Linked DNA regions of Homo sapiens: all the other regions are linked to region 3. Evidence: fine-mapped expression QTL. A gene starts in region 3. Each other region holds a variant in brackets. All regions are shown on one strand. Distances are between the middles of the regions.

Region 1 (5,228 bases), 52 kb after region 3:
CCACCCTTGGTTCATCTTTTGAAGGGAGGAACAGCTATTTTTAGGGATCACTTTGGTGAAGGGGAAGCAGACATGATCAAGAAGACTAATGAGCTTGAACAGGGATGCTTAAATGCTGTTTCCCTAAGGTACGATGAACCACCACCATCAGCTTTTCAGTATCTCAAGAAGTGACATTTCTGAAATTATTTGCATGACAATAGAGGCCAATTGTCCTGCCTGTTCCACCCTCTGCTTTTTCTCACTAGTAGCAGGGCTGCTGCAAGTTCCAGTCTGAAAACTTTTGTTTACAAGTGAGAGTGTATCAAGGGACGCTTTGACGTGAGTTCTCACAGATGATAAAATTATTCTTTGTTCCAGAAAAGACAAAGTGGCACATCTGAGGTAGTCAAGATAAGTTTTTGCAGAGATCAAATTAGTATCTCTAACTTTAATCCTTTCCTGTCTGCAGTCAATTCCGTTCCTTCTGCAGTTATCTTCTCATAGTGATGTCGGGATTCAGACATCCCCACCCTGAGTACGATGCCATGATCACGAACCATTTGCTGTGTGCTAACATAAGGCTGCTAGATGTTGTATACAGCACCCTCTTACCATGAGATATATGGTGTCATTCCCTTTTACAGAAGAGAAACTAACACTGAGAAGATTACACATTTTCTCAGCAACACAGCTGGTCAGGGGGCAGAGCAAGGGCTTGAACCCAGGACTGACACAGACCCCTGCTCTGTGCACAGCACCCTAGCACTCCCAGAAGGGTGGGTGGCTGAGGTGAATCTTCAGTATTCTCTTCTGGTTCCAGATGTTCAATTGCAGTATGTTCTATGGTGGGTCAAAGAAAGCTGTCTTCAAAAAATTATCTAACTCACCTTAGTCTTGTCTTTACCTATGTGTGGCTTGCTTATGCAAAGATCCAAGTTAGAATGCTGATATTTATTAGATGTAACAACTAGCTTGTTGCTGAAAGTCAGAAAATTGAGATCCTTACTATCATATCCACAGATCAGATGATTGTTAAACATATGAAGGGGGAGCCACTTACTGGCTGTGATCTTGTTCTGGTTTCTTATTTTCTCTGCCCCTCGTTATTTTCACCTGTTAAGGAGAGATCATTGTAGTATTTATATATAATCCACATGAAGCACTTGTGTAAAGAAGAGTGCCTCACATATAGCAAGTGCTCAATTACTGTTACCACCACCACCATCGTTGTCATTGCCCGGAGGATGTGGATGGGGATGTGGAGGTAACGGAGTGGTGCTGAGTGTGGGCTGAAGCCAGGTCTCTGGGCTGAGATACCTCTGTAGTTGGCAGCTGCCTTTCCTAAGGATATTCTAGTGGTTGAATTTTAGATTTGAAATGCACTTTAGCAATCATCCAGACTGTTTTAAAGAAGAAATCTGATGCAGAGGGAATTTATTTAGGAGACTTGCTTAATCCTTGCACCATTTTAAATGAGCAGTTTTTATGTGAAGAAGATTTAGATTTGGAGTGAAATGTTCATCTTCATTTTGAAAATATTCACCAATTATCATTTTTCATGTCTTTCTCTTTACTTTGGAATATAATAACACACTTAACCAAGGGGACCAGGGCTGTGCTAACAGTTTCATCCGACCAAAACCAAATTCCGTCTTAACATTCTGCTGGCTCCCTTCAACAATGACCCTTCTCATTCCCTGATGTCTGGCTGAGATCATGTTCTTGGTGGATTCCAGCTCCAAGAAAGGTGATTGGTCTGTTCCTTCTGCGTCACCCTTGTCTCTGGCTGTAGCTTTGACATAAATTCCATGTACGCAATATGTAAACCAGCCATATGAGCACCATCTGACAAAAGTCTTTCTTCTCTGTTAGCTCTTTAGGACAAGCTGAAACTTATCTGCTTACCTCTGCCCCCTTTGGTCTCTATTATGGCTCCTCTGTTTAAATCTTGGAATTTCCAAGGTCTTGACCAAGTGTGTGGAGGTAGCAGGGTGGGAGGGGAGAGGGATGATTGGCACTTGTTACATTACTCTGGATTCACATATTAATTCTGGCATAATAATTGCTGAGTGAAAGGTGCTTTATATTAACTGATTAAATCCGTACTTTGCCAGAACATAGGACCTCTGCCCATATGTTGGCATTGGTTATCTGGCCTGCATTTTAGGGACTGTCCTGATTTCTAATGTTATATATTATTGTTCTTCTGCATGCCTGGAGTTTAGTTAAAAATATATATGGTTGAATCCCTAGACTTATAGGGCATTTGGATCTATAGTCATGTATGTTTGTGGTTGTTTACATTTACTATTCAGTATCCATTCCTTGTTCTACTGTTCAAAACATCCTGGGGTGGGCATGGTGGCTCACACCTGTAATCCCAGCACTTTGGGAGGCCAAGGGGGCAGATCACCTGAGGTCAGGAGTTCGAGACCAGCCTAGCCAACATGGCGAAACCCTGCCTCTGCTAAAAATACAAAAAATTAGCCAGGCATGGTGGCTCATGTTTGTAGTCCCAGTTACTTGGGAGGCTGAGACACGAGAATCGCTTGAACCCGGGAGGCGGAGGTTGCAGTGAGCCAAGATCTCGCCACTGCACTCCAGCCTGGGTGACAGAGTAAGACTCCGTCTCAAAAAACAAAACAAAACAAACCCATTCCGGTTTTTCTTTAGAGCTATCACCCTTCCCCAACGCTCTATCCATGTGCCAATGTCACCTCTGATAACAGTTGGGCACATGAGCTGGATCTGGCCAATCACAGCATTTCATTCCTTTCACCACAGGGATTGATGCAGGGGTGAA[C/T]ACATAATGGATAGACTGTAGAGCACCTAGGACTTCTGCTTGAGATACATATAAGAAAACACTCTCTCTTCCCACTGGACTTGAAACTATGAGGTTAGGAACCTGGAGATTCTTGCAATCAATGTGCTCCCATGAAAAAACAGCCAGCCTGAGAAAAAAGTGAATCTGGAAGGCAGAGCCAAGAGAGGGGCAGAAAGGGAGTCCTGATGCTGTCCTCTGAGCTGCTCTTTCAGCCACACCTGCAGCCAGCCTTCCCCTGGGCTTCTTCAGGTTCAAGAGACAATACATTTTGGTTCTTTTGTTTCACTTAAGCCTATTTGAGTAAAGTCTCTTTATTGATACAGGATATTGCTAGGTTGATTTTGCATTCCCTGTGGAAAGTTCTTGCTTTTTTTTTTTTTTTTTTTGAGACAGAGTCTCGCTCTGTCGCCCAGGCTGGAGTACAGTGGCACGATCTCGGCTCACTGCAACCTCCACCTCCTGGGTTCAAGCGATTCTCCTGCCTCAGCCTACCGAGTAGCTGGGACTATAGGCACGTGCCACCATGACCAGCTAATTTTTTGTATTTTTAGTAGAGACAGGGTTTCCCCATTTTATCCAGGATGGTCTCGATCTCCTGACCTCGTGGTCTGCCCGCCTTGGCTTCCCAAAGTGCTGGGATTACAGGCGTGAGCCACTGCACCCAGTCAGTTCTTGCTCTTTTAGAGAAGAGAGAGGGAACCTAAGAAACCTCTAGTCCATGAACACTTTGCCTAGAAACAGACTAGAGAGCACCTGGCATGGGCAGTGGAGACGGACCAGCCAGAACTCAGAATTAAAGTCTATCCAGAAGTATCATGAGAATGTATGGATTCAAATCAAGATTTGTTATTTTTAAGCATTTGTGATCATTAATTTAAAATATTTTGTAAGTCTGCAAAGTGTCCTCAGGTTAAGAAAACAAGCCTTGTATTAATAGCTGGAGCTTGGGAAAGTTACTCATTTATTTGAGCCTCTGTTTCTTCATCTGTAAAATGACCTATCTCAAAGGATCATTAAAGGAGATAATTGATATTAAACATTCAGAACAAGATGTCAAGTACATCCTCAATAAATAGAAGCTATCGCTATTAATAATGCTCTAAATTTTTCCTTTTTGGATTGAGTGATGATGGATCATATCACATCTTTGAGTCAGAATTAGAGTCAAATGTAAACTGGGAGCACCAACTCGCTAGAAAGAGGATTCTGGATTTTTGAAACATTCCTTAGATTCACAGATTTGTTTTCTAGCTCTTCTAAGGTGGTAGGCAAAGGGAAACCTAAATACTGGTTGTTTCTTAGTCTCAGTGAGGGGCCAGGTTATCCAATGGTGTTTCCCTTGCTCAGTTAAGTTGTCAGTGACAGACCTTCTCCTGATGGAAGGAAGGAGTCAGGCCAAGTTTTGCCTCTTGGTCACAAATGAAAAAAAAAAACCCAACAAAACACAAATCAAAAAGCCTAATTGAGACTAACCCTCATTTAGTACCATGTGCCTGGCAGTATGCTAAACACTCTTGTGCACTGTCTTGTCTCTGTCACAACTCCAGAAGGTGAGAACTCTTACCATCATTTTACAGAAGAGAAAACTTGGGTCAGAAAGAAAGGACTTGTTGAAGGACACCTGCTGGTAAATGGTGGCAGCTGGTTTGAATCCAGTGCCTGTTCTTGTAGCCACTGTGCACACTGACGTCCCCTTCCCTGTGCACACTCAAGTCTAGCAGGATTTGAGTCCAAAGCCCCTGCTCGTGGCCCCTGTGCTCACAGTAGTTCACTGAAAGTCTGAGCTCATCAGGAGATCTAGTTCCCAGGAGTCAGTACTCCCAGAATCACTCACAAGGCTGACAGTGGGATTTTCCAGGGGCAAGCTGCAGAGGACAGGACAGAACTGCATCACTTTGAGGAAAAGGGATGTTGTTCCTGGGAAGAATTGTTATATTTTCATTATTTCTGCTTGTTGCTCTGCAAGTTTGGGGACGATGTCTCATTAGGAAGGACAATTGCTTCTTTCTGATGAACCACTTAATAATTGATTTGATTATATGTAGTTAATATAAGAACCAGATGGGAGCAAAAGGTAATTACTTTATTGCAATGCTCAAAGAGGGAACTCAATATGTTTCAGGTAAACACCTGAAACAAATGACTTACTTCATGTAAATTTTGTATTGATAACATGCCTTGTACTACGATGAATTAAAGACAGTGCTAATAAACATCTTCTATCACCCCAGGGATTCCTGAAGTTTCCCTTATCACCTTAACAGTTATTATCTGAGATCTGTGTTGTTGTCATCAAATGTTGTCATTGTCTTGGCTTGTCTCCTTGAGATTTGTGTGTATGTGACTTGGTGACTATAGAAATTAATGAAAGATATGGGCAGAGACTGAAACAGTACTGAGCAAATGAATACTAATGATCCTT
Region 2 (5,228 bases), 32 kb before region 3:
CTTTACCCCACACTGGCTCCTTCCTGGGTTTGCCTTTCGTGCATGCAGCTCTCAGGCCACAAGCCCAGGAGGCATCCTGATTCCTCTGTTCACTCATCACACAGCTCACCTGGCAGCAAGTTCTTTCCACTTGCCCTAGCAAATACGCACATCCTAAATCTCACTGCTTCTCCCACCATCACTTCTCTTCTGGGTAGCCTCAGAAGCCTCCTAACTCCCCTGTGCTCTTGCACTGTCACTCTCAGACAGTCCTTGTGCAATGAGAATGGTCTTATCGCTGATCACAGTCATTCCCTTGCTCCAACCCCCCACGGCTTTCCATTCCAACGGACAAACTCCCCACTCCTTACCAGGAGCTACAGGCTCCCCTTCATGTGGCCTCTGCCCAATTCTGCTACCTAATTTCCTCCCACTCCCTCCTTCCCTGCCTCAGTCAGGCCACACTGACCACCATGCTGTTCCTCAAACTTCCCAAGCTCTTTCCTCCTACTTCAGAGCCTTTGCACACACCCCTCCCTCTGCCTGGAAGCCCCTTCCCTATAGATTGTTCCTTGGCTCTCTCTCTAATTTTTCTCAGGTTTCTGCTCAGATGTTACCCCAGGAGAAAGCCTATCCAAAATGCTCCTCTCTCCCACCCACTCTCTAGCCCCTGCCTCTGGTTTGTTTTTTCCCTCCACAGCGTTTATCTCCACTCAAAATCCTGTTTTTCCAGCTATTTTGTTAGAACTTTTGTCACTGCTCTATCCCCAGCACCATCAGCAGTGCTCACACGCAGTAAATGACCTATACATACTTGTGGCTGAATGATGAAGTGCTACTCCTTGAGGAGTGGTCCCAGGACCTTGGCCCCTTTTCCAGCCTCTGAGCAGACCATGCTGGCTATGGCCAGGATCTCCTGCTAAGTTTATCTCAGAACCTGCTCTCTTCTTGCTGCCTCCCATTTGGCCCCCTGCTGTTTACCAATAACTCCAGAAATACACAGGCGTGGAGAAGTTGAGCAGCCTCTGGCATTTTAATGCTAGGTGGGGACCTTTCACTTCTCTTCCTGACCATTCCAAACGAGTCCATGCTGCTCCCATTTCTGTAGACAGACTGGTCCTCCATAATCCACTTTCCTGATTTTCCTCCCCGTTTTCTCTGTGCCCCTCCTTGGTCTTCTTTGCAGGCTTCTTCCTCTTTGTCCAATATCAAAACGTTGGTATTTCTTAGGCTCCACCTGGATTCTCTGCCCTTCTTATTCGACTCTCTCCCTGGTGATCCCGCCCATTTCTAGGGTTTCAGATTCTCTACATGCCGGTGCCTCCCAAACTTACATTCCAGGCCCAAGCTCTTGTCTAAGTTCTAGACCTGGGTGTCTAGCTAGAAAATGTTCTTTGATGTCTCATAGGCAACTCAAATTTGATGTGAAGAAAGCTGAACTTGCCTTCTCTTTCACTTTTCCCCTTAGTCAATGACCCAGGTAACTATCTCGAAACTTGGAAGGCTGCTGCTTCTGGCCTTACCCCTATGCCCAATCAGTTGTCAGTATAGTCAGTTCTCCCGTGAATAGCTGTACACTCTATATACTGCCTGTCACTGTGCACTGCCACCAACTAAGACCAAGCCACTGCTGCCATCTCTTTCCTAGGTTACTTAAAGGGCAGTTGCACCCCCTACACTTTCTCCAGTCTAACATCCTATGCTGCTATTGGCCTCATAAAATGTCCATCTGATTGCATCATCCTTTGCTTAAAATGCCTCATTAGAGTTTTGATAAAATCTAAACTTTTTAACAGGGCTTATAAGATCCTTAATAACCTGTTCCCAAGCTGGCTGCATTTCTTGGAGTTTCTCGGAAATATCTGCCTCCCTCAAGCACATTCCCACCCCACCCTGCATACATACACATCTCTGGCCACTTGTTTGTCATTTACCCTAGAGTCTAACATAGGGCACAGTAAGGCCTCAATAAATATTTGTTAAATAAAGGTAGGAAGGCAGTGGTCCTGGATTTTAATTGTATGTCCTCACATTTTAATTTAATTTACCTTAAAAATGTAAATGATTCCAGAGTCAAAAGTTGCTGTTTTGTTTTATAGTGCTCTGTATGTTTCCCTCCACTCTGTAGTTTCCAGAGGGTTATTAAAAATGGACTAAAAGAAGCAT[G/A]TGGGCTTCTGTTAGCAAATCAGTTGTAATCTGTGTTCTTTGGCTGAGTGCTGAGCTTAGGAGGCTGCCAGATGGGGACACAGGAACCAAATCATCTTTGCTTCCCAGTGGGGAACAGGGGCATAAATTGGCTGAATGGGCTTCTGCAGTAAAACTCCTTCAATTTGAGCTTGTGTAAGCCAGGATCAAAATACCTGAGACTTGTTGAGACTTGTCTAGAATGTTTGTTAAACTTTCAAACCTGTTTGGGAAGAAGGCTTGGAACAACAGTGGGTTTGGGTCTTGTGAAGTAAATCTTATTTAAAGGAAATAGACAAAAGCTTAATCATGTTTAATTTGTAACATTATAGGTAAGACTGTTGGTTGCTGTTGTAATGACTCTAAAAAAGAATAGAGAATATTTTTTTCCTTAGAAGTTCCAGGTTCAATGATGAAACCCCATCTCTACCAAAAATTCAAAAATTAGCCAGGTGTGTTGGCCAGTGTCTATAATCCCAGCTACTCGAGAGGCTGAGGCAGGAAAATCACCTGAACCCAGGAGGTGGAGGCTGCAGTGAGCCGAGATCGCGCCACTGCACTCCAGCCTGAGCCACAAAGCAAGACGCCATCTCAAAAAAAAAAAAAAAAAAAAAAAAAAAAAAAAAAAAAAAAGAAGAAGTTCCAAGTTCAACATTCCCAACTTCCCCCTCGGGGCTGGGAGCTCCTGGGTGAGGTTTCTAAGTCTCCATCCTCTCAGAACTCCTATCTTTAACTTCTTCGTGCATGGATCAGAGGGGCCTCCAGTCACTGCTGAGTCACAGGGATAAGCAAAAAGGGAATGACACACTTCCTGCCCCAAGTTCTAGGGAGTTTTTATGGTTTGTTTTTCTGTTTCGCTTTGAAAATTCCCTGAAAAGACAGAAGATTGCCCCAGCCGCCTCCTGATTGGCAGCCTCTATTTATTTATATGATTTCATGGGATATCCTCTCTGCTATGCCTTGTAACTCACAGGGTTTTTGAAACCTTTTTTCCTTATCACAGCAGTATTACATGTTTGTGTAGTGTATTTATCAACTACAATTTGACCAATAAAAAAAAAAGAGGCACTCCTTATTGTCACTACCCAGAAAAAAATATATTGTGCATATCATCATTCCAGGCGCTTTTCTGTGTGCTTATAGTTTTCTCTTTAAAAATTATATATGGCTTAATATAATTTCTTTGCTTTTATATATTGTTTTGTAGCCTTTGTGAAGAGTTCTCATGTTATTAATACTCTGCAAGATCGGTTTTAAAGATTGCATTACTGGCCAGCCGCAGTGGCTCACACCTGTAATCCTAGCCCTTTGGGAGGCTGAGGCAGGAGAATTGCTTGAGGCCAATGGTTCAAGACCAACTTGGCCAACATAGCAAGACCCTGTCTCTTAAAAAATAAAAAATAAAAAAAAAAAGACTGCATTACATGCCATATATGGATGTGCCATAATTTACTTAATCAGTCCCCATGTGGATAGTTAGGCTCTAAAAGTTTTCATATGGGGTCATTGTCATAACCCCGCGCAGTTTCCTTGCACTTGTCCACACTTCTGTCTATTTCATGGGATGTATTCCTGTAAGTGGTTCAAAGGGCCTGTGGAGTTTTAAGGTTTTTGATCTTTATTGTCACTTTGCCTTCCAGATGTTTGTCCTGTTTTACATTCCTGTCATATAATATAAACTCCTTACCATGTCCTATATGGTCTACATATTCTGGCCTTTGCCTAACTCCCAGCTGCTCTATTTTATTTAATTACTTAATTTGTTTATTTATTTATTTATTTTTGAGACGGAGTCTCACTCTGTCGCCCAGGCTGGAGTGTAGTGGTGCGATCTCAGCTCACTGCAAGCTCTGCCTCCCGGGCTCACGCCATTCTCCTGCCTCAGCCTCCCGAGTAGCTGGGACTACAGGCGTCCGCCACCATACCCGGCTAATTTTTTTTGTATTTTAGTAGAGATGGGGTTTCACCATGTTAGCCAGGATGGTCTTGATCTCCTGACCTCGTGATCCGCCGGCCTCGGCCTCCCATAGTGCTGGGATTACAGGCGTGAGCCACCGTGCCTGGCCTCCCAGCTGCTTCTTACAGCTTTCCTCCCCTTGCTTCCGTCACTGTAGCCACACCAGCCCCTGTCCCCTCCTTCCCCTGAAGCATGCCTGGCTTGTCCTGTCTCGGGCTGTAGCACTTGCTCTTTCTGCTGCCCAGACCATTATTCCTGTGGCTTTCAGCATATACCTCCAATGCCACTTCTGCTAGAGTGGTCTCCGTCAGAACCTCCTGTTTATTTTTGCCCTAGCACCTTTCACAATCCGTCCTTCATTTATGTATGTGCTTACTGGTCTGCTGCCGCTTTTTCCCACTGAATGTCAGTTTTGTAACACAGGCAACCCCTTATGTTTCATTTCCCATGTCCCCAGCATCTAAGTCAATGCCTACCATTCAGTAGGTACTAGGTAAATGCAGGTGGATTCATTCATGCTGAATGAATGAAGAAATCACCCTGTCGTTTAGGAATGTGTGGTGTAATAGGGCTGATGAGGTGTGTATAGTGATGGTTACCTCTTGGAGCCAAACATGGCTATCTCTTGGAGCAAAATGTGGGAAATGCTGTAAGTGTCCAAATATCACGGAGATGCAGGAGTGGGAGCAGTGACTGGCTACAGTGTCATGAAAGGCTCCATCTGAGCTGAGCCTTGGGAGACTGGCAGTGTTTTGCAGCTGGTGATGATGGAAAGAATCCGAGGGGCTGAGGAAAGCAGGTGAGCAGAGGCCCAGAGGCAAAACAGTGAAGCACGGTGGGGGCAGGACTGGGGACTGCTTTAAGTCCTATGTTGACTCATGGACTCAGACCCCTGAGCAGCAGGGAAGCATTGCGTGCTCCTCATCAGAGGGTAACATGGTGAGAGAGGATATGGAAGTGCTTTTTAAACTTAATTCTAGGTACACATGGCAGTGTTAAGGGTGATCGGGCTGTGCTTTGAGAAAATGTATCATGAGGACAACTAAGTAAGAAGCACAGGAAGTTCAGGCCAGAGGATGAGCCTGAAGGAGGTTGGGGTGATGGGGCT
Region 3 (5,228 bases):
CGGGCGGTAATAGTTTGTTGGTATGACTTCCATACATGTTGCCATGTGAAGGATGTTTGGGGTGTTTCTTAAACATACAAGAATCAACAAGTCCCACCTACAGGAGATAACAAATCATTATGATGTACTGGACCATTATTCACTGGGGCTAAGAAGTAAATTATCCCCTTTTGAATAAAAGCACAGCAAAATCAAAATGACCTAGTACATATCTGAGAGCAGCAGAAGGCCAAGGGGAGCCCTAGAGAATCAGCTGCCCTTTGTCACCATGTTGCAGGGTAGGGGTATGGGGCAATGCAGCCTGCCCAGAGCAGATGGCTTTGAGGTTATACGGGAGACTGAGGAATGTACTTATTCACATAAAGCCTTTTAAAATAAGCTGAGCATTCATTGCTCTTGAGCTAAAACAGAGCATTCTTCCCCAAGGTGACTGCTTGCTTGCATTTAAATACAAAAGAAGTTTCTCTCCAGGCTTCCTGAGGCCGATGGTGAATGTTCAAAGATCAACGAAGCTAACATGAATCTAAAATGAATTATAAGGCTGACGGAGCGCTTGAACTATTCATTCAGCAGTTGTAAAACAAGTAGCACATTAAAGGACATGTATTTTAACATATCTTATGTGGTTTGTCCCCAGTTGGACTTGCAAAATGACATTTAATAAATATTTCTTGTAAGGGTACTTTCTAAAAGAAGAGAGTGAAAGTAATTCTGCTGTAGGCAGATTGGGCCTGAAATTTGGGTTGTCTGGATTTGCATAATCATCACCTTGAAAAGGTGTTGCTTTACCCCAATTATAGATCAGTGGAAGCTCTCTTGTGTAGCACACGGCCCTGGTGAGATCCCTTAAGATCTCTTGTGGACTATCTGTGGACATCTGGGTTGCAGTGAGGAAGGGCAAGGATAGATGGTATAGGGAGAGAGGGGCAGAATGTTGACTTGGGCAGGACAGGAAAAGCCACTTGTGACTGGTGAGGGAGCATTTCTTTGGGTTCAGAATCATCCTCATCTCAGTGTATCTCCCCATAAGTCTGAGATTACTGAGTGCAAGGTATACATATCAGCAGCTCCTGACTCAGGATGTGTGGCAGAGGGGACCATGAAGTTAACTGTGACTTTCGGAAGGGTGCAGTCTGTTACCCTTTCGGTGGCGAGGTCAGTTTCCGGGAGGCTCTGCAACACTGATATTTTCCAGATGTTTCTCCTCTTCTCCCTTCTCTGGCTGGCTATATCTTCCTCCCTTCATCCTGCTCTTTCAGTGAAATTGAGATAACATGTTAGAATCTTAGGCAGGTTAGAATCTCTCAGCAGTAGGATGTGATTTAATATCTAGACCTCTTACATTAATATTTATAATAGCCTTCACTGCTTGTGAATAGCATAAGCACTCTTTTCTGTTCAAAGTCAATACTGAAATAAAACCCAAGAGTATGTTTTATAAAAATTTACTTTTAATGGTGCAATGGTAATAATCTATGTAGTCCTTATGGTTTTCAAATCCCTTTGTGCTTATATTACCTTATTTAATACAGACATAAATCTGTGAAGTAAATAATACTATTTTTATCTTCATTTTACAAATGAGGAACTGGAGGCTCAGAGAGGTTAATTTGCATAAGGTCATACAAATGATAGATGGCAGAACTGGATTTAAGTTCAGACTCCTTAAATCCATGTCTTTTGTACGTTCTTTTCACTAAATTTGCCATAGTGTTTCTATTGGTTTTTGCCTATATAAAATCGGAAACGAAGAAAAAGAAACGAACTGGAAAATAAATTTGTCAAAAGAGTATATTTTTTTCTCATAATTTCCAAGCGGATCTTTCAGATATGTTATTTGAGGACTTTTTGCCTCAGACTGGCGATAAAACAAGTGTTCTACAAAATACCTCCGTAAGACAGGCCTATCAGTGGCAGCTCTTGTCCCCGCTTTGCAGAAGGGAAAACCAAGGCTCCACAGAGCTAAGGGGACTTCCTCTCAGCCAATTTGTAGGGGCCTGTGGGCCAGACCCGGGGGCAGAATTGAGATCTGTTGTGAAGGCTGTCCGGCTTCTTTATTCTATCAGCATTTCAAATCCTGAAAACCTCCCCTTTGGCATTTTGAAGGAATTCATCCCCAGTTTTTGCTGGTAGCCGGGAGGGAACCGTGCTCTCCCCCTGAGGAAGGCCCTTTGGAGTAACTGCAGCAATGAGTGCCCGGGCTGTGCTTGGAGTACCAGTGCTCGCCCGGGGCTATACTGAATGAGTAAGCAGCCCCGTCTGCTTTTGCTGTGCAAAGGTAAGGGTGGAGGCCGCTCCACTTTCTTCAAAAGGCCCCGCTCTGGGACTTGTGAAATTGTGCTCTCTTAAGCTGGTCCTTGCAACCCCATGGACGATATCCATGCGACTTTCCTACAAAAATAACATACCAAAGCCGCTTTAAAATCCGTAATTTTTGGGTTGCAAGACTCCAAGACAAAGTCAAATGGGCATCAAAAAATGTAATCCAAAAATACAGAGGCATTGGTTCTACCCTATATGCATTTGCTATTTATGTAAAACTACAGTGTGCTCTGAGATGAGACTTTTTTTTTCTTTTTATACCTTTTTTTCCGCCCGTCTGGTGCGTTTGCCGACGGTTCTTCTCGGCCCTGTGTCTCGGGAGAGTCGGCTGCCGTCTGGGCCTGTGCCCCACCTGCGTGCGCCCGGGCCGAGCCAGCCCCGCCAGGTCGCCTCCGCCCGGCTGCCGGCCCGAGCGCGCGGCTCCGGGGGCGGACTCCCGCCGCCCAGCTGACACGCGATTCGTCACTCTTGCAGAACTTTCCCCCTGAAAATCCCTGCACCAGAACCCGCTCTCCCGCCCCGGGGAGGTTTTGATTTTAGTGGCTTTCTTCCTTTTATTTTCCGTCGTGTGCGGATTTCGCTGCAGAGCGAACTTGCGGCTCGTCCGAGTACATGTGAGCGGTAATCGCCCCTGCAGCTGGTTATCCTGACATTATGCACTCCGAAGCAGAAGAATCCAAGGAAGGTAGGATTCTGGTTTCTCCTGGGGGCCGGCCAAGTTCTGCGGAGGAATTTGGAGGAAGGCAGTGGTAGAAGAGGATGGGAGTTTTAAAGTGAGCGGTGGGCACTTTGTCCGCTTGCCCTGCGCCTTCGAAGCCAAGTCGGAGCTGGATAAGCGGAGCCCGGGTCTCATCTTGGGCTCCCTTCTCCCCCCGCAGCCGTTCAGAGGGGAGGGGAGGAAAAGTCGGACCTAGTTCAGCCAGCCCACTAAGTCTGCTTTTTAGCTTTCTCTGGAAACGAAAGAGCCCCACTTGGACTCCAAGAATGCAAAATGTGCTTGGAAAAGGGCTGCCTGCCTGCATCAGAAAGACTGAAAGCGGGATCCCTGGAAGAGCCCTGAGTGGAGGGTCCCTTGAAAAGGGGTTTGAGAAATTAGAAACGCTATATGTTTCCGGCTAAAAGGGGAAGCTGAGTGAGGGGAAGCGAAAATCTGTATTTGAGAAATAGATTAATTTTTTTTCATTGCTGGGTTTTCAGCAGTGAGTTCATTTCGTTGGGGGTTTGAGGGGGCTGAAAGATATGAGGGGGTCCTTGTGCAGCTTGAAACTGAGAAGAGTTTGTCTGTTTCTAACTTCGCAAAAGCAAAGGGTTTCATTTACTCCTAACAGAGAACAGGTGACAGGGCTGGAAAAGCTCCAACCAAAACACAATTATACGCTGGTGTTAGTTTGGGGAGTTTATTTGTGTGTGAGTGTTTGTATGCTTTGTTCCTTGAAACTTTATGTATACAAAAGTTCTCTTGTAAGTGGGGGGTGGGAGTAAGGGTGGTTGGGGAAAATTAGAGAGTAAGAGAGGAGACTATTCAAGATTGTGAAATACTCTTTCTTTTCATGTAGTCTCTTGGAAAGCTGGTTAATTTCAAGTCAATCACAGCAGTTCTGGCAGAGGAGCAGCCCCATCATTTCTCCATTTGGTAGACACCAGTTAGGAAGAGCCCTTGAAACTTGTCCTCTTCTGCCTTTTACTGATTCCCCTCCCAGAGGAAAGCTTTGTGTTTCACCATGTAGTCTTTGTGGGCTCACGTTTACCTTATTATGCTGTGTGAGGGAAATAGTCAATAAAAAGGAGGTTTGTTTAATAGAAATACGGGGCTGGCATGAATGAAAAATGACAGCCAGGAGCATTGTTTTTGAGTTTGATGTGGAGTATGGGGGGAGTAATGCTTTCTTGCCGTGTCCTGTGTTCTGATGGAGCTGTGTGCTGATAGATGCTTTTCTTTTCTATGTCTTTATACCAGCAGTTTATTCAAAGTCAAAGGTAGTTGAAGGCAAATAGGAACCAGGCTGAGAGAACTCAAGGGTGAACTTCTGTGTGAATTACAAGTAGCACTTAAGCTGGCGTTTTCTCTCAGGTGTGTTTTCCCTGTCTTTTGAGAAAGAGAGAGTGGGAGAGAAAGTGGAAAAACAGTATCCCAAAGTGTGTATTATACATTCCCATAGCAACATCCACAGTCTTCCCTCCTCGAGGGCCCAGCTCTCTGGTTTTAAGTTTGGAAGCAGCCTGCAAACTGGCCTATGAAGAGGTTAATGGGGCCCCTTCTGCTTGTTCCTCACCTTCCCTCCACTTGTCATCATTTACATTCTGCAGATCGGCCACAAATGATATGGCGCTCTGCTTTTTAAAGAAAGCCCAGAATGTTTCTTTTAAAATAATCTGAGGTAGTAGAATTTTAAATTGATAGCAATTAGGGTGGGATACTGAATAACTCTTGAGGGAGATTGAACACTTTATTAATCAGATAGAATCATATAGCTTCTGCCAGGAAATGAAGGATAGGTGTCTGTGTGTTTTGGGTGTGTTTTCTCCAAGGCTGGTTCATTGGCTGTAATCTAGAACCTTCTGGTTAGCTACCACCACTCAGATGTCGATGAAGCGAGCTATGTTGTGTAAATAACTCAGTTATCTTCTCTATCGTTACTAGTCCTTTTCCTCTTATACGTAGCTTTTTTTTTTTTTTTCATCCTGGTGAACTTATGTATCCCATTTAGTGTGAGATCACCATGAGTTCTTAAGAATGTCTGTATTGCAAGAAAACTGCCTTTGGATGCTTCATGCCTGATACGCTGTAAGAGGAGATACTTTTAAGTCATTTTTCTCAACTGTAGTGAGAGACTAGTATACTTTGGGGTTGAATCTAAGTCCTTGGAGGCCAGCATATTTTTGCATATGCGTGAATGTAGAAGCAA
Region 4 (5,228 bases), 190 kb after region 3:
AATAGTATTACCCCAACATTTTAACTTTGCCTGTTAGGTCAACAAATAAAGCAGAAAAACTGAAAGATAATCCAGTTCCACTGAGAAATTCTGAAGTTCAGAAACTTCAAAAGCTGACAGTTATGGAAAGTGATTTTCTGAAGAGAAGAACATTTTAGGTCAATGTGGACTAAGCTATTTTTATGAGGGGAGAGGATAGAAAATAACCTATTTTACAATGCATAAATAGGCAAAATACAGAAATTGCAAGCCTTAGCTAAAAATGAGTCTAGATTTATATTACATGTATACATGGTATGTTGGTTGAAGTTGCCCAATTAAGTGATTTCTAGACATCAGGGTTAACGTAGCTTAAAAAAAAAGATAACCTGAGATTGCCGAGTGTTGAGGCACTAAAATTCAAAATTTAACCATGTAAGATCTGTTTGTAGCTTCATTCAAAATCCATCTTTTAAGAAGCTTGGTTACATAACTTTTAAGCCTACAGCTCACAAGAATGGAAAAACAGTCAAGTAGAAAGAACCATGTGTTGTTGCAGGGAGCACTGGCTGGGGGTAGTTTTTGTAGGCAGCATGGAAGAAGTCATAAAATTAACCCAGAAAACAGACTAAGAAGTGTCATTTGAAGTGAGGTTGAACAGCTCTATACACCTTAATCTCTTGAAGTTACAGGACTGTCAGTAAAGAACAATGATGGGTTAAATCAGGGGTCAGCATACATTTTCCGTAAAGGGCCACACAGTAAAGACTTTTGGCGTTGTGGGCCACATTTGGTCTCTGTACCGTATTTCTTAAAAAAAAAACAAAACAAAAAGAAAAACCTAAAATTGAAAAAGCCATTCTTAGTTTGCTAGCTGGACAAAAAACAGGCTAGGAACTGGATTTAGCTTGCAGGGTGGAAACTGGATATAGGTGCTGAGAGCCACTGGTTTAGAAAACAAAATTTTCAACTGTCAGCTTTATTTTTTTTAAAAATTTAATTTTTAAAAAATTTTTGTAAATTATTTTATTTCTTCCATGATGATTTAGTGGGACTATCTTCAAACCAGTACAAATATTTCATAAATAATATCTGGCTGTTTTCTAACCAATTGAGTAATATGTTCCACAGTAAGCCACCTCACCTCTTTGAGCAAGAAATACATTAAATTGGAATAGTAAAGACATTACTCAATGGATAAAGACAATTAAAATTTACTTTAAATATTTCTTTCGGGAAGAGGACACCACACTTCTACTCAATGAGTAGAAACATTTTTACAGTCCAGAGGTCTTTTATTTTTTTAACACCTACTATGCCATGAATTCATAGGGAATAAGTTCCAGCAGCTCAGGCTCCTTCCCATCGGTTCTCACAGTGTACTTCGCTGAGTGGAGCAGACTGGCGCTTCAGTTGAATCCAGGTACCTTTGTCTTTGGCTTCTTTTTCTGATTATTTTCCTTCACGCGTTTCAGGAAACTATCTTGGCTCTTAGAGTGCTTAATGTGTTCAATAAGCGCATTAATTCTCTTGGCAAGAATCTTGCCTTTAACTTGTTTGTTTACAATAAGGCCAACAGCATGCCAGGTAACATTGTAGACTCTTCCAGTTTTGCCATGATAACACTTGTGGGGCATTCCTTTTTGAGCAGTACCCATTCCCTTGATGTCTACAATATCACCTTTCTTATAGATTTGCATATACATGGCCAAAGGAAAAACTCTTGTTTTCTAAAACGCTTAGAGACCATATATCGGGTGCCTCTCCTCTTTGCCTTTGTCTTCATCATTTTGGTGAATTACTGGAAGATGGTGGTTCCAGCCGAAAGAACTGTCATATTTATTTGCCTTAAACAATTTATGAAAGTATGAATGCCTTTCAGGAAAATTTTTTCAATTATGAATGTCAAGGGACAGAACTAGGGTCAAGAAACAAATACTTAAAAAAGTTGCTTATTTATATTTTGCTTACTAATGGAGCTTTGTTTTTGCCATTCTTATTTAAATATGTTCACGTAAAATTTTCACCATTAGAGAATAGCTATTTTAAGTCACTTTGCTCATCATTTAACTTGTCTTTTCATATGCTTCCTGTTCCTTTAAGGCTCTTTCTATCTCATAATCTTTAAACCAAATAAAGTATATTAATGA[A/G]ACAAAATGATTGGCATACAACTTGCGATTCTTGTTGAGATGTTGGAACTACCATGCATACAATTTATCCCATTCTTCCCACTGTTTTTTAAATATTAAAAATAGTAAGGCTCATTAATAACCCAATTTTTAAAAATGGGCAAATGATTAGGACATGCCACGTGTCACATTAGAAGTACTCAACACCATGAGAAGTCAGGGAAATGAAAATGAAAACCATAGTAAGCTACCATTACATACTAACTGAGATGATTAAAGTTAAAAAGACTGACAATACCAAATCTTGGTAAGCATGTGGATCAACTGGAAGTCTTATACACTGGTAGCAGTGTAAAATGGTATGACCAGTCTAGAAAAAAGTTTTAGCATTTTTTTTTATAACTAGTATACACTTTTCCTGTGAGTCAATTCAATTTCTAGCTACTTTCTCAAGAGAAATGAAAACATATTACAAAAAGGCTTATATAAGAATTTTTACAACAGTTTTGTTTTTAATAGCTAAAATCCATCCACTAGGGAATGGATAAACAGATGATGGTATATGATACAGTGGGATTCTACTCAACCATTTAAAAAGTTAACAAGCCAGGTTCAGTGGTGTGCACATGTAGTCACAGCTACTTAGGAGGTTGAGGCAGGAAGATCGCTTAAGCCCAGGAGCTCGAGGCTGCAGTGTGCAATGATCATGCCTGTGAAGAGCCACTGCCCCTACATCTCTAAAATAAATAGTTAAGCAGCATGAATAAGTCTCAAAAATATACTGAATGACCAGGCGCGGTGGCTCACGCCTGTAATTCCAGCACTTTGGGAGGCCAAGGTAGGCGGATCACGAGGTCAGGAGATCAAGACCATTCTGGCTAACGCAGTGAAATCCCGTCTCTACTGAAAATACAAAAAATCAGCCAGGCGTGGTGGCGGGCGCCTGTAGTCCCAGCTATTCGGGAGGCTGGGGCAGGAGAATGGCATGAACCCGGGAGGCGGAGCTTGCAGTGAGCCGAGATCGTGCCACTGCACTCCAGCCTGGGAGACAGAGCGAGACTCCATCTCAAAAACAAGAAAAAAAAGTATATGGCATTCTAGAACAAGAAAATTAAAATATGGTGGAAAAGTTCAGAAAGTAGTTGCACTGAGGAGGAAAGGTTGGATTGCTTGGGAAGGACCATGAGAGAACTCTGGTAGTTATATCCTACATCTTGAATAGGAATTTGCATTACACAGGTAAATACATTTGTCAAAACACATTGAGTTTTACACTGAAGATTTATACCTTTGATTGTATATATAAATTTTTCTTAAGAGAAAAAACTATAAACAAATATTAAACTCTCATCCATGATATGCTTGCCAAAGCACTAAAGGATAAAGTGCACTGATATCTGCAATTTACTTTGAAATGCATAAAAAAATAAGAGGGATGTATAGAGGGATAGACAGATGGACAGATGTGACGCCACAAGCGTAATGAGGCAGAAAAATGGAGTCTGGAGGCAAGGAACCTAAGGCCAATTCACGCTGACTTCCTAGAACTAAATCAAAAGGAAAACCCCAACTTTCCACACATAAGTAACAAAAAAAATGGAGACTACTCCCTTTGCAACCCCTCCCCGCCTTTTTCTGCGTGGCAGATGGAAAATTGAAAATATCTGTGATTGGTTGCTTTCTGCAATCAATCGGACATTTGCATAGGAGTGTAACTTTGTAAGTTTGTGTAACTTTGTAACTTCACTTCAGCCTCTGATTGGTTGCTTTCCACAACCAATCAGACTGACTGCAGGCCCAGTCTTCGTTTGCATAGAAGTATAACTTTGTAACTTCACTTTAGCCTCTGTTTGGTTGCTTTCCACAACCAATCACATGCTTGCGTAGGGTGTAACCTTTGTAACTTCACTTCAGGCTCTGAAGTAGTTGTGTGCCATCTTCATTTCCATAGGGCGCACACCAAGTAACCAATGGGAAACCTCTAGAGGGTATTTAAGCCCCAGAAAATTCTGTAAAAGGGCTTTTGAGCCCCTATCTTCAAGCCCACTCCCAGCCTGTGGAGTGTACTTTTGTTTTCAATAAATCTCTGCTTTTGTTGCTTCATTTTTTCCTTGCTTTGTGCATTTTGTCCAATTCTTTGTTCAAAACGCCAAGTACCTGGACACCCTCCACTGGTAACAATAGTACAACGTTAATTATTCAGGAGGTGGTTATAGAGGTGCTTAGTGTAAAATTCTTTCAGGTTTACTGTATTTTCAAACATTTTTGCAATTTAAATATTGGGAAAATACAATAGTGACATAAAAAAAGAAAATTCAACTATATGCTATAAAATAATACACACCTAAAGCAGAATGACGGAGAAAGATTTTTCACTATAGGAAAAATGTATCCCAACACATTATGTCGTTAGCAAAGATTACCGTGGCAGTTAGGGTATGGTGATTATAGTGGAGGGGAGAGGAGTGGAGGGAGAAAGGGAGACCAAGCAAAAGGAGAAGGAAAAAGGTATATTAACAAAGCTTGCATATTATTACATTTATTTTATAAAATTATGTCTGCATACGGGAATATATGGAAATGGTATAACACTGCAGGATACAGTTAAAGCAGTAATCAAAGGAAAATTTCATAGTTTAAAATTCTTATACTAATTATAGGAATATAAATAAATGAATTAAGCATTCAACTTAGTAAGTTAGAAAAACAACAAACCCAAAGAAAGCGGAGCAAAGGAATTATTTATAATAAAAGCAGAAAAAGAAGAGAGTTGAAAATAAAAAATCTAGCGTAAATAAATAATTAAATGAACAAACAAATCAACAGGCTGATCTTTACAAAGTGTAATAAATAGCTAACTCACAATCTTACCTAATTAATTTTTAAAAAGGAGAGTATTTTGCTTAACTGTATGCCAATGAACTTCAAATGCTGTATAAATTTAATGATTTTTTTACATCATTGACACAAAATAGAAAATCTAAACAGATGGCTTGACATAAAAGAATTTGAGGCTGGCCATTGTGGCTCGCACCTGTAATCCCAGCACTTTGGGAGGCTGAGGTGGGAGGATCATTTGAATCCAGGAATTCAAGACCAGCCTAGGCAACATAGTGAAAC
Region 5 (5,228 bases), 41 kb after region 3:
AAGAATGTCACTTTTTTATTTAACTGATAAGATTTTTGTTATTTTTTACTTTGATAAGTAAACCAAAGAATATTTGTATTTCAAGCAGTTTGTGTGGTGTTTCTATATAATTTTCTGTGTATAAATAATAAAGTAGGCATTTGTTTATTTTGTAAAAAAGAAATGAAAATCTGCTGGCCAGCTATGTCCTCTAGGAAATGACAGACCCAACCACCAGCAATAAACATTTCCATTGTCACTGTGTCTATGATTTTTTTTTTTTTTTTTTTGAGTCTCGCTCTGTTGTTTAGGCTAGAATGCAGTGGCATGATTTTGGCTCACTGCAACCTCTGCCTCCCAGGTTCAAGTGATTCTCCTGCCTCTGCCTCCCAAGTAGCTGGGATTACAGGCATGCACCACCACACCCAGCTAATTTTTGTATTTTTAGTCGAGATGGGGTTTCACCATGTTGCCCAGGCTGGTCTTGAACTCCTGACTTCAAATGATCTGCCTGCCTCGGCCTCCGAAAGTGTTGGGATTACAGGTGTGAGCCACTGTGCCTATGATTTAGTGTACTCTCTTGCCTTAAATTTGCCTGCCTCCCAGAATATTGACATTAAAATAATAGTTTACCAGGAAAGGTTCCACAACTAAAAATTCCAGAAGTTGAGATCTGCTCTAACCCATTTCAGCCTAGAGAGGGTGGTCAGTTTCTCTGACACCCTCATTTGCTTGGCTAAGACAAGCAGCAAAGGTGTAGAGTTTCTTCCTGTTTGATATTAAATCCTGACACTAAGATTTGAACTGAAAGTATCATTCTCACTTCCTAGAGCCAGTAGGTGATCAGTATATGCTGTAACAATAACACAGTGACTACAGAAATGACCCTTCTAGCTTCATAACTTGCTAAGTGGCTTATAAATGGAATTCAGCAGCCTTCCTTGACCAGCTGTTTTCCTCACATGTGAAGGCTGAGAATGTGATGGGGGGTGTGAGCTACTGACTGGATGTGTTCTGTTCTCCAGATCTCAAACAGCAGAGGTATGGGAAACGAAAGCCCTGGGCAGTCCATGGATGCTTCTTGCTCATCTGTAGCTATAGACAGGACCAACCAGAGAGAGAAAACGTACGGAGGGAGAAATCTGGATCTCTCTGGACACACTGGATCATAGGGTTGTGCCAGCAGGCTAGCAATCAAATGTGCATGGGATTGGGGGAGCAATGCTTCATCTCCCACAGAGGGAAGGCAGTGAGGAGTAGACCGAAGGAGGGAATCCTGTTTGCTACCATTTCTCAGCATTTTCTGGAGGGGACCCATCTCCTTACCAGTGCTGTGCCTGAAAAGCATGTCTTGGATCAGGTCCAAAGTCGTGATTAGCAAGTTCATTTCTAATACAATAGGACTCCCCTTGAGCATTTAGGGTGGCAAGGAGCGTGGGAGCTGGGAAGAATCCCCACGTGCTTAGGGTAGATAAATCTGAGCCGAGTTAATACTAATTTGGGGATCCTATGAACCTTTTTATAAAATAGTATCTGTTCACGTTTTGAAAAAAATTGTGTTGTAATTGATTTTATTTTGTGCTGGTGGCTTCTCTGCAAAAATTATGAGTGGATATGATAAGTGGATGATAATACTAATGGACAACTAACGCAGAGTAGTTTGTATTATGTGTCGGGCACATTAACTCATTTAATTCTGCCACAATCTTCACCATCTTATAGATAAGGAAACTAGGGGAATAGAAGTTAAGGAATTTCCTGAGGTCACATGTGCTCGAGGTGTCCCAGCCGGAATATGTATAAAATCTTATTTTCACTTAAAGATGATATGGCTAAAGGCAGTGCTAGGAACATCTTTGGCTCAGAGAAGCGTGGGCAGTATGCTGCTGAAATGGTTCCTCATATAGTGACATTTTAGGCAGTACCTAAGTCAGCACAGGTCTGGCCTGTTCTCTAAAGATCTGTGTAGATGTTGTACAAAGACATTTTTCAAAGTTTTCAACATGACTCCTACTTTGGGGGCATCTTGTGGCTCAGTTTTCTGTCTCGTGGAACTTCACTTCTAGGTGCTCACAATGACTTTTAACGTTGACTTCTGAGGTGCAGTGAGCTGCTCCCCCACAGCTGTCCCTAGCAGTGGTGGGTTCAGAG[C/G]ATGACAAGGCACTCAATGTGCATTCACCAAGAGAAGCAAGGAAGCAGCAGTTCAGTACTGTGCTCCCTAGAGTAGGCACGGCATCAGTTTCAAACTTCAACATTATTTTCCAGATTTGGAGGCTCAAAATATTTGAGCAAGTTAAGTTAAGAAATAGCCTTTTTCTGATTATTAGGCCTTTCATATACAACTCAAAATTAGTTTAAGAGTAAAGCATGGGGTGGGTGCGGTGGCTTATGCTTGTAAGCCCAGAACTTTGGGAGGCGGAGGTGGGAGGATCACTTGAGGTGAGGAGTTCGAGACCAGCCTGGCCAACGTGGTGAAACCCCACTGCTACTAAAAATACACAAGATTAGCCAGATGTGGTGGCAGGCACCTGTAATCCCAGCTACTTGGGAGGCTAAGGCAGGAGAATCGCTGGAACCTGGGAGGCAGAGGTTGCAGTGAGCTGAGATTGTACCACTGCACTGCAGCCTGGGCAACAAGAACGAAACCCCGTCTCAAAAAAAAAAAAAAAAAAAAAAAGCATGAGTTAAGAACTTTGATCGTACAGAAATATTGCGTTTTAAACTCTTATATAATAGTATGCCATTCACAATTATCTGGAAAGTTCTTTTTCTCCCACCATGTGAATACACACACACACACACACACACACACAATTTTTAAGCCCCCAAAGGCTTAAAATAGTACTTTTTGTGGTCTGTACCGGTCAGTTGGATTTTTACTAAGAATTTTAATTTATCCTTGAGATACTTGATGAGTGTATATAAGCAGTTGCAATTTAGCATACAAAACCTGACAAATGGTAAATAAAAGAATATGTTTATCCAAATGATGAAATATTTGTAGTAAAAAGTGCTATTCAATTGCCAGGAAATTAAAATACTCCAGTAAAATGAATTAAATTAGCATGTTAATAAGAGTGATAATATTTAAAAGTTTTAGTCAATCTTGCATTTCCATACTTGCATTATCTAAACTAGTTGAACTTTTCAGTGTTTTACTTGATATATTGCATTCTTGAGCATTAGGCTTCTAGGTGATTTGTTAAACTCATAGCAGGTTTTAGTACACAGTGCTGTTTATGACAGAAAAAATTTTATCCTACCTCTGAAATAATTGTACTTTCTGTGATTCAGATAAAAACTTTATAGAAACTCCCTAATGAAAATATTGAAGCATTAACCAGAAAATGAGTCAGCTTTTTGTTTCCAAAATGATGCAACAGGAAAACCTTTAACTACTTATAATCCCGTATAGTCACCATCACCACGAAGTATTGAAAATCTGTTTTCTCTTTTACTAAGTGTCTGCACGGTCACTTATGTATACCCAAAGCCAGAAAGATATTTTTATCTCAGGGAAATTCCAGAAATGGAAACATTTTTGTGTAATATTGATTCATTTCTGTCTCACCAAAGATGTGTTTTCCACGTAGCAAAGAACATCAGCCCCACGTTATAGGGAACAAGCGAGTCCCAAATCGTACCATCTGCTGAGCACTGAGAAAGGATATGGACAAGTCAGTCAGCATTCACAATTAAGAGAAAAACATCTGTGCTTTGGAAAATGTTCTTCAAGGATAGAGAATTGTGCCCTATGTCCACCAAATTTGCATGAGATCTTTATAAGATTAGACAGCCAGTGGATAAGGCCCCTTATCTTTCTTCATGGATGGCTGAGGAAATTCTCCGCCTTCCCTGACATCAGCTGCATAACTGTATTTCTGCCTCGTGGAAATAAAGTAGATGATCAGGCACTTGCGGTTTGTTCTTAATACAAGAAAGACAATTTGATTTTTAAAAGTTTTGATTTGTAGAATAATGTAAGACAATATGTTTCTTTCTACTTTGGTTTTTCCATTCAAAAGCTTACAGATGAATTCATTCGTTTAAAACTGCCAGGCTGAGTGCGGTGGCTCATGCCTGTAATCCCAACACTTCGGGAGACTGAGGTGGGCGGATCACCTGAGGTCCAGAGTTCAAGACCAGCCTGACCAACATGGTGAAACCCCATCTCTACTAAAAATACAAAATTAGCCGGGTGCAGTGCCACATGCCTGTAATCCCAGCTACTTGGGAGGCTGAGGCAGGAGAACCACTTGAACCCAGGAGGCAGAGGTTGCAGTGAGCCAAGATTACACCACTGCACTCCAGCCTGGGCAACAAGAGTGAGACTTTGTCTCAAAAAAAAAAAAAGAAACTCTGTCTCGAAGTAAATAAATAAATTTTTAAAAACCAACCTGATGTGAAGTTGAAACACAAGACGCGGAAATAAAAACTCAGAGTATAAATATCTATATTGTTACCATTATCTGGGATAATTGATGATTTATAAGAAGCTGAGGTTTCGTCTTCCTAGAAATGGACTTTTATTAGGCCAGCAAGAATGACCACTTAGCCATTTAAATGATTTGTCAGCATCTTTTGCTGCTCTCTTCTAAGACCATTGGTTTTCACTAAAGGATAAATACCTGCTAAGCAAATTATAAAATACTATAAGACATTTAATCTCCTGGAAGAGGACTTGCTGATAATTGGATCAAAGTTCCAGCATTATTGCTCTTTTCGAATCATATGGACTTAGTGTTCTCATGACCGAGGAGTCACATTTTTAGCTTGCTAAAATATTCACTGGAGAACATGGTGAAATCCACGAGTGGAAACGTTCCATGGTATTTTCAAACGCCACGTGTCAGGAATTTGGCATGCCTTCCTCTGGGAGAGGCACTGGAGTGTGGCCAGATGGAACCCAGCAGGGTACAGAGGGCATTTGTGGGAGCAGTTAGGAAACCAGGACGTCCAGCTTCTGCCTGCCAGGGAGCTCGCTCATGTTGTCTCTGAAATTTGCATAAGAGCAATTACCTCATATTCTAATTTTAAAGATACAATTTTTAAAGACATGGAAGGCTCTGAGACCTCCTGAAGGCTATTCCTATGTGAGGTATTGTTTACGGGTGGCCTTTCACTATTTCCAAATCAGCGATGAAAAGAAGACTGAGTCTAAAATAAATGAAGCAACAGACTTCAGCAGCCTGAGAGAATTTTGTTCAATTCCAGTCTCCTTAAAAAAAAATCGGTTTTTGCTTTCAATT
Region 6 (5,228 bases), 23 kb before region 3:
TGTCCAGACAAGGTTTGGGGAAATCCTGTGCTGTGCAAGGCCTCCTTTATGTGAGAAGTGAGTCTGACCATCCGCCGTCTCTGTTAGGCCATCTGGAAAACGCTTCTGAGCATATTGTTTATCTCAGTCCCTGAGTCTCCTGGAATAATTCCTTCTCAGCCTGCCTTCCTCCCTGCTTCACCAATGACTCTTTCCTCTTTGAAGAAGAGGAGAGAGACAAAGAGGAGTAAGTTGAATAGAGGAGGGGGAAGCTATAATTAGCGCCATGGTTTAGGCACGCCATTGAAAGAGTTAGCATGGGCAGGATTCAGCATACGAGGAGGGTACAGAGAGGACTGATGGGAAGAGAGGAAGGTTGAACAGAAAGAAAATGAAATTAATCTTGGCAGCCATGGCATTAAGCACTAGGGATTAGGGAACGTCCTGGGAATGCCAAAGCATAAAGGCCAAGGTGTTTTGTAGACATTTCCAGTTCTGTCTGAGGCTGTAGAATTAGATGAAATAAACAAATGAAAGTATCTTTTTATGCAGACACAAATGTCATCACTCTTTTGATGATTTTGTTGAATGTGCTTCTGATAAGGATGTGGGTAGCTATAAAGGAAATATTTTTCTTGGGGTATGTGATAAGCAGTTGATGAAACTAGGCCAGCGAGAGCATGTGTGTCTAGAGATTGTTCTGGGAGGGTAGGGGTTAGGCCTCATGGCCTCTCCTCTCAGCCCTGTCCTATTGTGCAGGGTCCTGCTGAATATGCTGCTTAACCTCTCTGCTCTGACACTCGCTTTGGAAACTGGGATTGCCACCCACTTTCGCAGGGTGTGGGGAGAGTGAAATGATGTAAGTGATAGTCTCTTGCTCTGAGATGCCGAGATAACGTGGAGTACACACACACGGAAGGGAAGGATCTCATTTTCTCATGGCCACCATCATGTGTTTGCAGAGAGATAGAGAAGAAGTACCAGATAAGGTGGCCGCAGACTTCCCTAATGACAGCTTATTTGGTATTACTGTGACACTCCAGGCTACCTCCATGACTGCCAATGCCAGTTGCACTCTCAGGGGCTGGGGGTTAGGGGTTAGGGTACAGATTAGCCCTGCGCTTCTGCTGCAGAGTTGTGCCCACCAAGAAAAAGGCCAAGAGCCAACTATATTCCTGAGCACAAATTGCTTTCACGAAGCTAGGCCTGGACAGATTCTTCAGCCACTAGGCCACCAGGCAGGGCTCCTAGGGCTGGAAGTCCTGGCTGCCTCCACTCTCCTCCTTGCCTTGAAGCATGGGTGATGCATCCACATTGGGCAATCATCACAATGTTGATCCCTGAACCTACCTAGAGTGTCTTAATTCACAAGTCCTAGGGAAGCATGGAAGTGCTGTGCATAGTCATATCTACAAAGAGATATTAGCTTTTTTTTTTTTTTTTAAACATAAGGCTATTCTGTAAGGTTTGACTGCTTCACAAATACTTACTTGAGAATCTCCCTGCTCTCTAGCCTATGTCTGTGATGACTCTTCTTTGTTCCCAAATCAAGTAGGATAAGCAGGATGCTAACTGCTGGGACTGGTTTAAACAGCACACTTTGAATAGATCCGGGGATATCTTGGGCATTCTAGTCTCAAGTGAGAGAAAAGGAGTGTCTTAGGGAAATGTCTGTGCAGATGCTTTGCTTTTTGTTCTCCTGTTTTTGGAGAGCTCTCTCCAAAACCAGGAGTTTCCTGCTGGGTGTAGAGGTGCCCACTGGATACATGAGGCTACCATGTCCTCTGCCCTTGCCTGGTGTTGGGACCTTGCTGGTGCCTCCCCGACTGGGCCTGGAGCATGTGTAAGGGCCCTGATGCCATGAAGGCAGTTGTTTTCACATAGGACTGCAGGATTCTTCCTCCAGCCTTGTCTTCCTGCAGCCTCACTGCACTGCCCCATCCTCCCCTAGCAGAACTGGAAAGAGTGGTTCCTAGTGACCACCTAGCCATGCAGCCACCACTGAGGTCACATTTTAGGGAAATGTGAGAGGCCTGTTCCACTGTTTAGATGCAGTATTTCTGCTCTTTGTAGCTTACCCTTGGAATTGCCAGTGAGTCACAGCCTGCGAAGTCCTTGTGATTTAGGGTCCTGCACTTCCAGGAAGAGCTTTCTCTTGACATCTTCTTTGACCCTTAGTCCCTGATGTTTTCATGGCATGAAGGGCCAGTCAGAATTTGGGGAGATAACACAAAAGAACACAAAA[A/T]TATGGTTTCTAAGGTATAAGTGTCATATCGCTATGAGTTAGTCACATGATAATGTAGGCCAAAGAAAATAAGAAATACAGAGATATGTTTGTAAATTGATGTTGATTTGGTATCTCTTTTGGCCTCCTTCCCAAATTAGTATTGGGCATTTGATTTTAATTTAGGTCAATAATAATGCTCATTACTGCTTGAGAACTCTATGTGCATCAGGCAATATGTTATTTGCTTCACGTGGTTCTCGTTAAATCTTAATAGCAATTCTGTGACATTGATGATGTTATTCTCATCTTACGGAAGTGCAAAATTATTCAGGGGTGTTAAATAACTTGCACGTATACACAACCAGAAGGTGGCATAAATAGACTCTGAACCAGACCTTGGAGAGTTTGTCCATCACCTTCCACTTTTTTTGCTAGGTGCTTGGTAGTTTCAAGGTAGAGTGTTATTGCTACAGAGTATAGAAATAAAATCAAGAAGCTTACCATGTAGGGAGAGTAAGATAGATAAACAACTGAAGATAATATAAGGACAGCTGTGATAGATACCAAAAAGTGTTACCAAGAAAGGTCAACCAAGGTGCAGTAGGGGCTAAAGGAAGAGATTGAGATCATACATACCTAATAGGGATCACCAAAGAAAAGCCTTCTTAGAAGTGGTACACTTGAATCTTACTTGGGGGAGTGGATAAGGAAAGATTTGTGGGTGGCAATGACTGCCAAATGCCCACGTAAATAAACAGGCTCCTAAAGAAACTATTAGATTGTATAAATGCATGTATGTGTATGTGTACATGTGTGTATTGTGTATGCCTGGATACACTCACACTTACATTCATTATGAAAACCTTATATACTCTTCCAAAGCAAAAGGCTGATGATTTTAAGTAGCAACATTGTCCAAACTCTATTCTTAGTTCTCCTGAGAACAGAAACACCTCTGAGCAATACGTATTATTAATAGACGTTCATGTTTATACAGGTAGGAATGAGGTGTTTTTTTTATTTTCTTTTTTTCAGGCATCTGTGAATGGGGCCTCTCCCTTTTTTTTAGTTTTTTTTTTTTTCTAAGTATCTGTTTCTATTTTCTAGCATGTTGAAACGTTAGACTTCCTGTTTCTGCTTGATTTTGAATATACTCCTGTTTGCTTGTCACAGGTAATCTTGCATTTCTATGTAGTTGTAGTTTACAGGGAGCAAGTGCAGGCAGCAACCAGTCCATCCCTGTTGTGAATGTGGAGACCTCTCTGGACTCACAATTAAAGGCTACCTAATGCATTCCACTACAAGTGACGAAACCTAGCTCCCAGAATAACAAGCAAGACAACTTTCAAAGTGACTGTAGTTGACCAGTGCCTTCTGTGCATTTATGTGGTAAGCTTATGGTAGATTTTTCAAAAGAATAGTATAAATTATTTTGAATTATTCTTGAGAAGGACTGAGTCTCCCCGAGGGTGATGCAGGTTCCATAGTGTACACGTCAACAGGGTGGTTGCATGCATTCCTCAAGTCTGTATGACTCTACCAAGATACTGTGAAGTTGTCCTTCTGATTGCACACGGGGAGAAAATGCTGAAACTAGGTGAGTTAAAACGGCCTTCAGAATATGTTTAGATATAATGTCTTTGTTGAAATCTGGTAAAATGTTCAGATGACTAACATAGTATTGCTGTCTTCAAGGAAATAATGTTTGGTCGTGGCTTTAGAGCTACTGTGTTCAACAAATCACTGTTTTGTTTTGTTTTGCTATGGCTCTGGGTGTGGGGAACCAGTGTTAAGCAGGGAGAGGTATGAGTATTGTGGGTGGAAAAATGACATTTAAAGTTTGCATGTAGACAGTTTCATTTGTAAACAGATAAAGATTTGAAATGTTTCAGAGATGGGACTCTGAAAAGATTGGATGGCTTTTTCACTCAGAGTTTCTCTTTTACATTTTCCATGCGTTTATTAACTGTAGGACACCTCTGGTTCCCAGTGGTCTGGTAGCAGTGGTAACACCGTGGGGCAACCCGTAAACACAAGGCTGTTTATTTCTATTCTCTTATTGGATAATTGTTTGAATATTGCTGTTGCCATTTTCTCTAACAACCAAAAAAAAAAAAAAACGGTTTACCTTACATATAAAGCATTTTGTACTTTTAAAATAACACCTTAGGTTTGTTTTTAGCCATACTTAATGCTCCCACAAGTAGACTTAATTTTATTTTTAAAGTAAATTGAAAAAGTTATCAAGGATTAGAATAGAGTGTTTTAAATAGCCCTTAAAGTTATATTGGTATTTATACACTTTTGTTCAAGTTGATATATAATATTTGCTTAGGTTTACTTAAAATTGTTCTGCTCAACAGATTTTTTGGAGCTTAAATTTAATACTAGGGAAAAACTAGAATTTGGAAGACATAGGTGGGTGTTGGTATAGCTAATCTTTTGGTCCATTATTGAACCCTTGGCAGCCAATAAATATTATTTCATAGAGTCCTGACTTCTCTTGTATGGAATGTGGTCACCTGCATATCATTTATAGTAAATGTACATTCGTCTACTAGATGCCTAGAGCTGTGCATGTGATCCTTTCGTGTGTGTGTGTGTGTGTGTGTGTGTGTGTGTGTGTATACCTGGGAGTCTGAGGCAGGAGAATTGCTTGAACCTGGGAGGTGGAGATTTCAGTGAGCCGAGAATCGCACCACTGCACTCCAGCCTGGTGACAGAGTGAGACTCCGTCTCAAAAAAAATGGTTATGTGTCTGTGACTGTATGTCATTGCATATATAGAGTTGAGATCAGAGCCAGCTTTGCTTGGGAGGATTTTGTGGAAGAAGTGAGTTTTGGGTAGAGTTCCAAAGGGAGGGTAGGTAGCGTACTTTGGCAGAAAGACGTGTACATAAAGCTTCCAAGGCTGGAGTGATTAAGTCATAAGCATTCAAGGGTAAGCATGAACCATTTGAGAACGAACTGTAAATTCGTGGTTGAAAATAGCCAGGCTAGAAGTGAAGGGGAGGCAAGGTTGT

Direction of the effects. Positions count from the first base shown, and alleles are read on the strand shown. Sizes are in standard deviations (SD) of each study's normalised expression. Not every link is listed here.
As copies of T replace C in region 1, the expression in B cells of the gene that starts at base 2,905 in region 3 goes down (small effect, 0.34 SD a copy in Fairfax 2012).
In carriers of allele A in region 2, the expression in cerebellar hemisphere of the gene that starts at base 2,905 in region 3 tends to be higher than with G alone (large effect, 1.3 SD a copy in GTEx).

What was found. PIP is the estimated chance that this variant, and not a neighbour inherited with it, causes the effect.
Region 1: its variant is fine-mapped to the expression of TNFAIP8 in B cells (Fairfax 2012, PIP 0.95).
Region 2: its variant is fine-mapped to the expression of TNFAIP8 in cerebellar hemisphere (GTEx, PIP 0.97).
Region 4: its variant is fine-mapped to the expression of TNFAIP8 in whole blood (TOPMed, PIP above 0.99).
Region 5: its variant is fine-mapped to the expression of TNFAIP8 in whole blood (INTERVAL, PIP 0.97).
Region 6: its variant is fine-mapped to the expression of TNFAIP8 in whole blood (INTERVAL, PIP 0.93).

Annotation. Positions count from the first base shown.
Region 1 is chr5:119,405,014-119,410,241 of GRCh38, forward strand. No RefSeq gene overlaps it. Among named protein-coding and RNA genes, the nearest start is that of HSD17B4, 45 kb to the right of the region's middle. The variant C/T (reference allele first, on the strand shown) is at 2,786.
Region 2 is chr5:119,321,519-119,326,746 of GRCh38, forward strand. It overlaps a transcript of TNFAIP8 not described here. Among named protein-coding and RNA genes, the nearest start is that of TNFAIP8, 32 kb to the right of the region's middle. The variant G/A (reference allele first, on the strand shown) is at 2,146.
Region 3 is chr5:119,353,115-119,358,342 of GRCh38, forward strand. TNFAIP8 (TNF alpha induced protein 8) reads left to right here and starts at 2,905. Exons shown (of 2, transcript NM_014350.4): 1 at 2,905-3,007. The coding sequence starts at 2,977. It overlaps LOC102723444 (a long non-coding RNA gene), which reads right to left and starts at 2,659. Exons shown (of 5, transcript XR_007058912.1): 1 at 2,584-2,659; 2 at 1,141-1,252. RefSeq lists an enhancer at 1,862-2,001 and silencers at 2,652-2,811, 3,440-3,734, 3,532-3,591.
Region 4 is chr5:119,545,839-119,551,066 of GRCh38, forward strand. It overlaps the pseudogene RPL21P58. Among named protein-coding and RNA genes, the nearest start is that of FAM170A, 81 kb to the right of the region's middle. The variant A/G (reference allele first, on the strand shown) is at 2,130.
Region 5 is chr5:119,394,362-119,399,589 of GRCh38, forward strand. TNFAIP8 (TNF alpha induced protein 8) reads left to right here. Exons shown (of 2, transcript NM_014350.4): 2 at 1-5,228. Among named protein-coding and RNA genes, the nearest start is that of TNFAIP8, 41 kb to the left of the region's middle. RefSeq lists enhancers at 676-725, 3,160-3,209, 3,490-3,539. The variant C/G (reference allele first, on the strand shown) is at 2,131.
Region 6 is chr5:119,329,829-119,335,056 of GRCh38, forward strand. It overlaps a transcript of TNFAIP8 not described here. Among named protein-coding and RNA genes, the nearest start is that of TNFAIP8, 24 kb to the right of the region's middle. RefSeq lists enhancers at 2,912-2,961, 3,572-3,621, 4,999-5,058. The variant A/T (reference allele first, on the strand shown) is at 2,225.